Linked DNA regions of Homo sapiens. The protein of the gene in region 1 purifies or fractionates together with the protein of each later gene. This does not show direct contact. Each region holds a gene or a part of one and is shown on either strand. Other genes may lie near its edges. The genes, in order: MTRES1 and SLC30A9.

Region 1 (3,767 bases):
TCCCCTTGGGTTTGAGGGATAGGACAACACAGGTACCTGGGCAGGGGTGGGGGGGTTCCACCCTTCTGTAGTTCTGCTGGTTCAATTTTTTTTTTCTTTTTTTTTTTTTTTTGACATGGAGTCTCACCGTGTCACCAGGCTGGAGTGCAGTGGTGTGATCTCGGCTCACTGCAACCTCCACCTCCCAGTTTCAAGTGATTCTCCTGCCTCAGCCTCCCAAGTAGCTGGGACTACAGGGATGTGCCACCACACCCAGCTAATTTTTGTATTTTTAGTAGAGACAGGGTTTCATCATGTTGGCCAGAATGGTCTTGATCTCTTGACCTCATGATCCACCTGCCTTGGCCTCCCAAAGTGCTGGGATTACAAGTGTGAGCCACCGCGCCCAACCCTGGGTTCAATTTTTTAAAATGACTACTTCAGCCTATGTGGACATTTTAAAAAATCCGTCTAGAAATACAGGCCAGGCGTGGTGGCTCACACCTGTAATCCCAGCACTTTGGGAGGCTGAGGGTGGATCACGAGGTCAGGAGTTCAAGACCAGCCTGGCCAACATGGCGAAACCCCGTCTCTACTAAAAATACAAAAATTATCAGAACGTGATGGTAGGTGCCTGTAATCCCAGGTACTCTGGAGGCTGAAGCAAGAGAATCGCTTGAACCTGGGAGGCAGAGGTTGCAGTGAGCCGAGATCGTGCCATTGCACTCCAGCCTGGGCAACAAGAGCAAGGCTGTCTCAAAAAAAAGAAATACAAGGCTTGGGAACTCTGCTTTACCTTTTTGGTATAACCTTATTTCATTCAAATTACTATTTTTAAAGAGATGAGGTCTCACATGTTGCTCAGGCTGGAATGCAGTGGCTATTCATAGGCATAATCATAGTGTACTGTAGCCTCAAACTCCTGGGCTCAACGACACTCCCTCCTCAGCCTCCCAAGTGGCTGCGACTACAGACACACACCAACTTGCTCAGCTAAAATTCTTTTTTTGTTTGTTTTCTTTTTTTGAGATGGAGTCTCGCTCTGCTGCCCAGGCTGGAGTGCAATGGCGCGATCTTGGCTCACTGCAAGCTCCACCTCCTGGATTCAAACGATTCTCCTGCCTCAGCCTCCTGAATAGCTGGAATTACAGGAGCCTGCCACCATGCCCGGGTAACTTTCTGTATTTTTAGTAGAGATGGGGTTTCACCATGTTGGCCAGGCTGGTCTCAAACTCCTGGCCTCAAGTGTTCCACCTGCCTTGACCTCCCAAAGTGCTGGGATTACAGGTGTGAGCCACTGTGCCCGGCCTACAATTCATTTTTAATAAGTAATATATGCATATGATACAAAATTTAGAAGATACAAAAGGGTAGACAAAGAAAAGGTGTATAGGCCAGGTGTGGTGTCTCATGCCTGCAATCTCAGAATTTTGGGAGGCCAAGGTGGGTAGATCACTTGAGGTCAGGAGTTTAAGACCAGCCTGGACCACACAGTGAGACCCTGTCTCTATAAAAAATAAAAAATTAACCAGACGTGGTGGTGTGCCTGTCATACCAGCTACTCGGGAGGCTGAGGTGGGAAGATCACTTGAGCCCAGAAGGTCAAGGTTGCAATGAGCTGTGGCTGCACCACCGCACTCCAGCCTGGGTAACCGAGCAAGACACTGTCTCCAAAATAAAATAAAGAAAAAGAAAAAAAAAATATACAAAGAAAAGGATACTCTGTGTATATCCTTTCATAGAGATACTGTGCATGATGTCTGCCTCTGGATAGAGAAGGCTAGTGTGTGGCTAAAGAATGAATCCCTTTGGCGGGGTGTGGTGGCTCACGCCTGTAATCCCAGCACTTTGGGAGGCCGAGGCAGGTGGATCACAAGGTCAGGAGATCGAGACCATCCTGGCTAACACAGTGAAACCCCGTCTCTACTAAAAATACACACACACACACACACACACACACACACACACACACACACACACAAGAATGAATCCCTTTGGAGCTTCCTTGTAGCACAGAGAAGGGGTGCTCCTCCTTTACCCAACTGATCCCAGGAAGAGATGAGTTTAGGAAGGATTCAATCCCCATACTTGGACACCACACACCCACTGTTTAATCAACAGTTACCCAACACCTACCACACCCTGGGCTTCACCTGGTTTTCAGCTCAAAGAAAAGCTTTGCTGAATCGCAGACAGCCAGGGTTAGAGCTGCAGCATCAGACAAGCACCTGACCCTTCGGGGTCAGCAGCCAGGCACAGGCTCCACAGAGCAGACCAGGGAAGGCGAGGCATTCTTTATTCCCCTCCACGGCCCCTGTCCCTCAGCAGACACAAAGCAAAACTGGCTGGGATTAGGAGCTGTTCCAAATATCTACATTTCAAATCTCTAGTTAGCTGCAGTTTCTATGGCTACCAGGCCTCCTAGTAACAAGACAGCTGAGCGTTAATAATGCCCCCTTCCTTTGCTGACCCTCACAAGAAACATGGAAGGCAGCTGAGACAACAGAACACCCAAGGCAGAATGAAGCAGCAGCAATTAGGCTGTAGTTAACAACATCACAAAACGGGGGCGGGTGGGAGGGGTGTGAGGAAAAATAGTCTAGTGGGGTTTGTAAATGAGGCCCCAGCACAGAGACAGGGTGTTCAGGGAGTAATCATTCTTTACTCCAAGAATACATCTTGTTTTTGGAATACTGCAGCTTAGAAGGAGGGCAGGCTACAGCAGGAAAAAGCTATTCAGAGATGAGAAGGGCTTATGACTGCATGTAGCTCACTGAGCAATAGCTGCTGACAGCCAGCCACAGTCCCAGCCTGCCGGTTCAAGTCAGGGGCATCACCAGGGCCCTGGGACTTGGGGGCTGAGACAGCTTGGGGGAGTTTTCCCTCCTTCTGCCCACAGAGCTACAAGAACCTGCATGATCCCAGTTAGCAAGGACTGCAGGAAGCCTCAGTGCTCACCCAAATGCACGGCTGACAGCCGACAGCCTCAATTTCCCATGTCCTAGGGCAACCGGATGTAGTTCGGATCCTCCAACCCCAGGGGTATTTTGAAATATGAAAGATGAAATGAAAACAATCTCCAAAGTATGTCTAACTTCTCTGGAACCTTTGTTCCCTGAACACTGAGTTAGATTATGTCTTCCAATACCTCGTGTCTTGTGTCTTCCACACTTTTTAAGGGTCTCTGTCATAACTTTTTATTGTGTTTTGTTAACTTTTATTATCAGTATTGTTTTTTCCATTATGAAAGTGATACATACTCATGGTAAAAAAATTCAGAAAATAAAAACTATGAAATTAACATAACCCATAATGCTTCAATTAAAGATAAATGCTAGTAACAGCAGTATTTTAATTCCAGATGTATATATATACGTAACTTACTTTTACAAAAAAATATTTTCTAACAGAATTTTTTTTTTTTTTTTGAGACGAAGTCTCGCTCTGTCGCCCAGGCTGGAGTGCAGTGGCACGATCTCGGCTCACTGCAAGCTCCGCCTCCCAGGTTCATGCCATTCTCCTGCCTCAGCCTCCCAAGTAGCTGGGACTACAGGCGCCCACCACCACACCCGGCTAATTTTTTTTTGTATTTTTAGTAGAGATGGGGTTTCACTGTGCTAGCCAGGATGGTCTCGATCTCCTGACCTCGTGATCCACCTGACTCGGCCTCCCAAAGTGCTGGGATTACAGGTGTGAGTCACTGCGCCCAGCCAGAATTTTTTTTTTTGAGACAGGGTCTCACTCTGTCACCCAAACTGGAGTGCATTGGCATGATTATGGCTCACTGC
Region 2 (3,823 bases), on another chromosome or scaffold:
CAAACCAGGCATTTCTGTTTTTTAATATGTTTTTGTAAGCCTTAACAGGATTACTGGAATAAGGCTGACCTTACTGATGGGTCATTCTCCAGGAGTTCAGTGAGCCGTTGTACTTGTTCTGGCTGGATGGACCGCCCTAAGAGTGCTTCTGTGTTAGTGTAGATGAGGAATGCTGAGACCATGCCTAATAAGGTGCCCACACCCAAAGAACCTAGGCTGTCATACAGTGGATTGCCTAAATGAAGCACATAAAAAAATCAGTAAATTAACAGTTTATATTATTTCAGTGAACTTTATAGAGAGCAAAGAACCAGAACGAGTAAATCAAGGCACTTGAAATTTATTCCTAATTTCTTTAATTACTTCCTTTAACAACTCCTAATAGTTTTAATATACCACAAAATGAGGATGCTACAACTTGCTTTCATAAGAGTACTATGTGACATAATTAAGATCTCTTACTTGTACCTGTCATTACATATGTGAAGTTTCTGAGCACATTTAGATTAGAGACACCAATACAAAAAAATGACATAATGAAGAGTCCATTTCTTTTAGATATATCCATAGCACTTTTCCTACACCAGATAGACAAAATAACAGTGGAATCAAAAGCTGAAAGAAACCTTTTTCCGTATCTTCTTCCTACTAATGTTCTGTAAGAGAATTAAGCCCTACAGAAAATAATATGGGTGACTCTCTTCTCATCCAACCAAGGATGATATATAGCTAGTATCATTCTAGATAAAAAGGAGAGAACTTAATTCATTACATGCCATAGGTGCCTCAAGGTGGTGCTTCTCAAAGTGTGGTTCCTGGACCAGCAGCCATCACTTGAAAACTTGGTAGAAAAGCAAATTCTCAGACCTCATTTCAGGCCCCTGAATAAAAAATTCTGGATGTGGGTTTCAGCATTCTGTGTTTCCCCAAGCCCTTCAGGTGATTCTGATTCTAATATTTGCCTTAGGTTGTCAGGGCTTCTCTCCCAGAACCAATGAGAAAGGCTGATTTATCATCTATGAATGTATAGGTAATATTTATATAATAGACACCAATAAATACGTTTTAAATCTTTATAATAAATTTTACACATGGCTTTTATGACTACAAGTCTTTTTATCCCAAAGATGAAATGTCATCAATATATTTAACTCTTCTTAATGCTTGATAAAACATATATTTTGCTAAGCTGTAACACTAAAAAGCAAACTTGTTAATCTATACTAAGTGTTAAAAATGATCCGCTTGTAAAACATTATCCATTAGAAGTTTTGTAATTATAGAGCTCAAAATCAAATACTGCTCTTTAGAAATCCAAATGTGAAGAGTTATTTTTATTTAAATATATACATTCATGTACTCTTAAAGAAATTACAGGAATATTAGCTGAAAGAAAATACCTTTTTTAAGAAAACTTTTATTTCTTGGCATGTTATTTAATTTAATTTGAATAAATTAGCTAATTAAGAAAAATTTAATTCATGTAAAACACATTACATATTTTTGTAAATTTGATTTGATTGGTTTCTATTATTATGTAAAAGAAAATAAATTATTCAAAGTTGACATCTGCATCAAGTCACACTTTTCTTAAGCCTAAAATTTTGCTAGTAATTTATGTTCAAAAACAGTCTAAAACTATATGGTCAACCAGAAAAACAATCAACATTTTTACAAATATTTTGGATCACAATAAACATCAGAGAATGCTAGTTTGGTATTAAAATGCACACTCAGAATGAGAAAGAAGTATTCATATTTCAGACTATTTGAAGAAACACTGCAGAACTGTGGAAGCTCGTCACCTAAAATTATTTTAAATATGTAAGGACAAATAGAGAAGTATGGAAGAAGTTCCTTTCCAAGAGAATTCCAACTTCATAAATTGAGTCTTTTCATGCTAAATGGTTGTTTTCGAAAATAAAAATAAAATAGAATTGTCTTTTCATTTACTTGTATTTTATTGGCCCTCAAAACACTTAATTAGCTACCAAAATAAGGACACAAACAACTTAGAATTAAAGAAATAGGAAGGCAACAGTAGTTATTATTGGCATTAAGTGTGGAAAAAGACAAATGAACAAGAGCCACAATATACGGTTAAGTCCTCATTCATGTTGTCAATAGGTTCTTAGAAACTGCGACTTTATAGGGAACAACATATAACAAAACCAATTTTACCATAAGCTAACTGATACAAACAAGAGTTAAGTTCCGGCCGGGCGTGGTGGCTCATGCCTGTAATCCCAGCACTTTGGGAGGCCAAGGTGGGAGGATCACCCCCGAGGTCGGGAGTTTGAGATCAGCCTGACCAATATGGAGAAACCCCGTCTCTAATGAAAATACAAAACTAGCCGGGCGTGGTGGCGCATGCCTGTAATCCCAGCTACTCGGGAGGCTGAGGCAGGAGAATTGCTTGAACCTGGGAGGTGGAGGTTGCAGTGAGCCGACATGGCACCATTGCATTCCAGCCTGGGCAACAAGAGCAAAACTCTGTCTCAAAAAAAAAAAAAAAGAGTTAAGTTCCTATGGCATATTTCTGGTCACAAAAACATCACTCAACTTCTAAGACCCAAAACATGTCTAATATTGAACACTGAAATAAATGTGGGCTACATATACATTTTTAAAAATTAATAAAAACTATGTAAAATAATTATTTACCCAATTTTTGGTGAATCAGTGAGTATCAGCAATAGTAGGGGTGGTGAGTTAAATCAAAGAATAAATGTTTGCAAAGTGAAAATTGTAAGGAACACCTATCACCACATAATTCAAAAATAAACAACCACAAATATGTAGGCTTGCTGAGCGCTTTCATACATCAGTTATTGTCCTGCATTTGTCTGATTATCATCTACTTGAGCCTATCCTAGCAGTTCAGGACACAGGAAGGAACCAGACCTGGCCAGGATGCCATCCCATGGCAGGGCACACTTACACACACCCCCACACTCACTCAGATTGGGACTATTTAGACACCCCAATTCACTGACCATGTACGGCATTGTGATGTGGGAGGAAGTTGGGGTGCCCAAAGAAAACCTATGTAGATAAAAGGAGAATGAGCAAACTCCACAGAGATGGTAGCTCCAGTTAGGAATTGATATTTTTCGCAACAATGTTATAACAAAATCAAGTTGAACAAAACAATGTTATTTGAGGACCTATGTATATTTATTTGGAACTTTAGAGTTTATTAAAACTCTCATATTTTCTTAATAAACCTAAGAGGTTACCAAGGTAAATATTATCCACACTTTTATAGGTAAATAAAAAGTTCAGAGTGATTGCACAATTTTTTAAGTCACAGCTAGAAAGACGTACAGCATTACAGAAATCCTTTACAAATAGCCTTCCTTATTTCTAATTTAGAGACATTTTTAATTCAAATAAACCTGAATACTTCTGCTGACCAAATGTCTTACATAAGTCAATGATTAGTAGGAATTAACATTTAACAATTTGTTGGTTTAATATTATTCAATGATATAAGAGAAAATTCCCACATATTAGAGAATTATTTAAGTAGGACAAATAAATCACCTGTAATTTAAGGAATATTTACCTGTTATAGAAGTAAGGCCCATGCAAGTGGCTGCTATTATAACTCCCAAGACTGCAGCAGTATCCTCCAATAATATCACATTTGTACTAGGATCACGACTTTCCATTACTAGTCATTGGGGAAGAGACAAGACAAGAAAATTTCTAAAATCTTAACTTGATACTATCAGGTAACATTTTAATAAGTATCCATTTAAAATCAAGATATAAGTTAAGATAAAAAAGTGTATGAGAGATTATGATTTTAAAAACCTTG

The links.
Region 2: the proteins of MTRES1 (region 1) and SLC30A9 purify together in Homo sapiens (affinity purification with mass spectrometry; one large-scale study listed by BioGRID and IntAct). This does not show direct contact.

What each region holds. Positions count from the first base shown.
Region 1 is NC_000006.12:107,045,124-107,048,890, reverse strand, and holds part of MTRES1 (mitochondrial transcription rescue factor 1), read right to left. Parts: intron 1-3,767. UniProt on the Homo sapiens protein: Mitochondrial RNA-binding protein involved in mitochondrial transcription regulation. Functions as a protective factor to maintain proper mitochondrial RNA level during stress.
Region 2 is NC_000004.12:42,066,938-42,070,760, reverse strand, and holds part of SLC30A9 (proton-coupled zinc antiporter SLC30A9, mitochondrial), read right to left. Parts: intron 3,677-3,823; coding exon 3,569-3,676; intron 236-3,568; coding exon 70-235; intron 1-69. UniProt on the Homo sapiens protein: Mitochondrial proton-coupled zinc ion antiporter mediating the export of zinc from the mitochondria and involved in zinc homeostasis, zinc mobilization as well as mitochondrial morphology and health.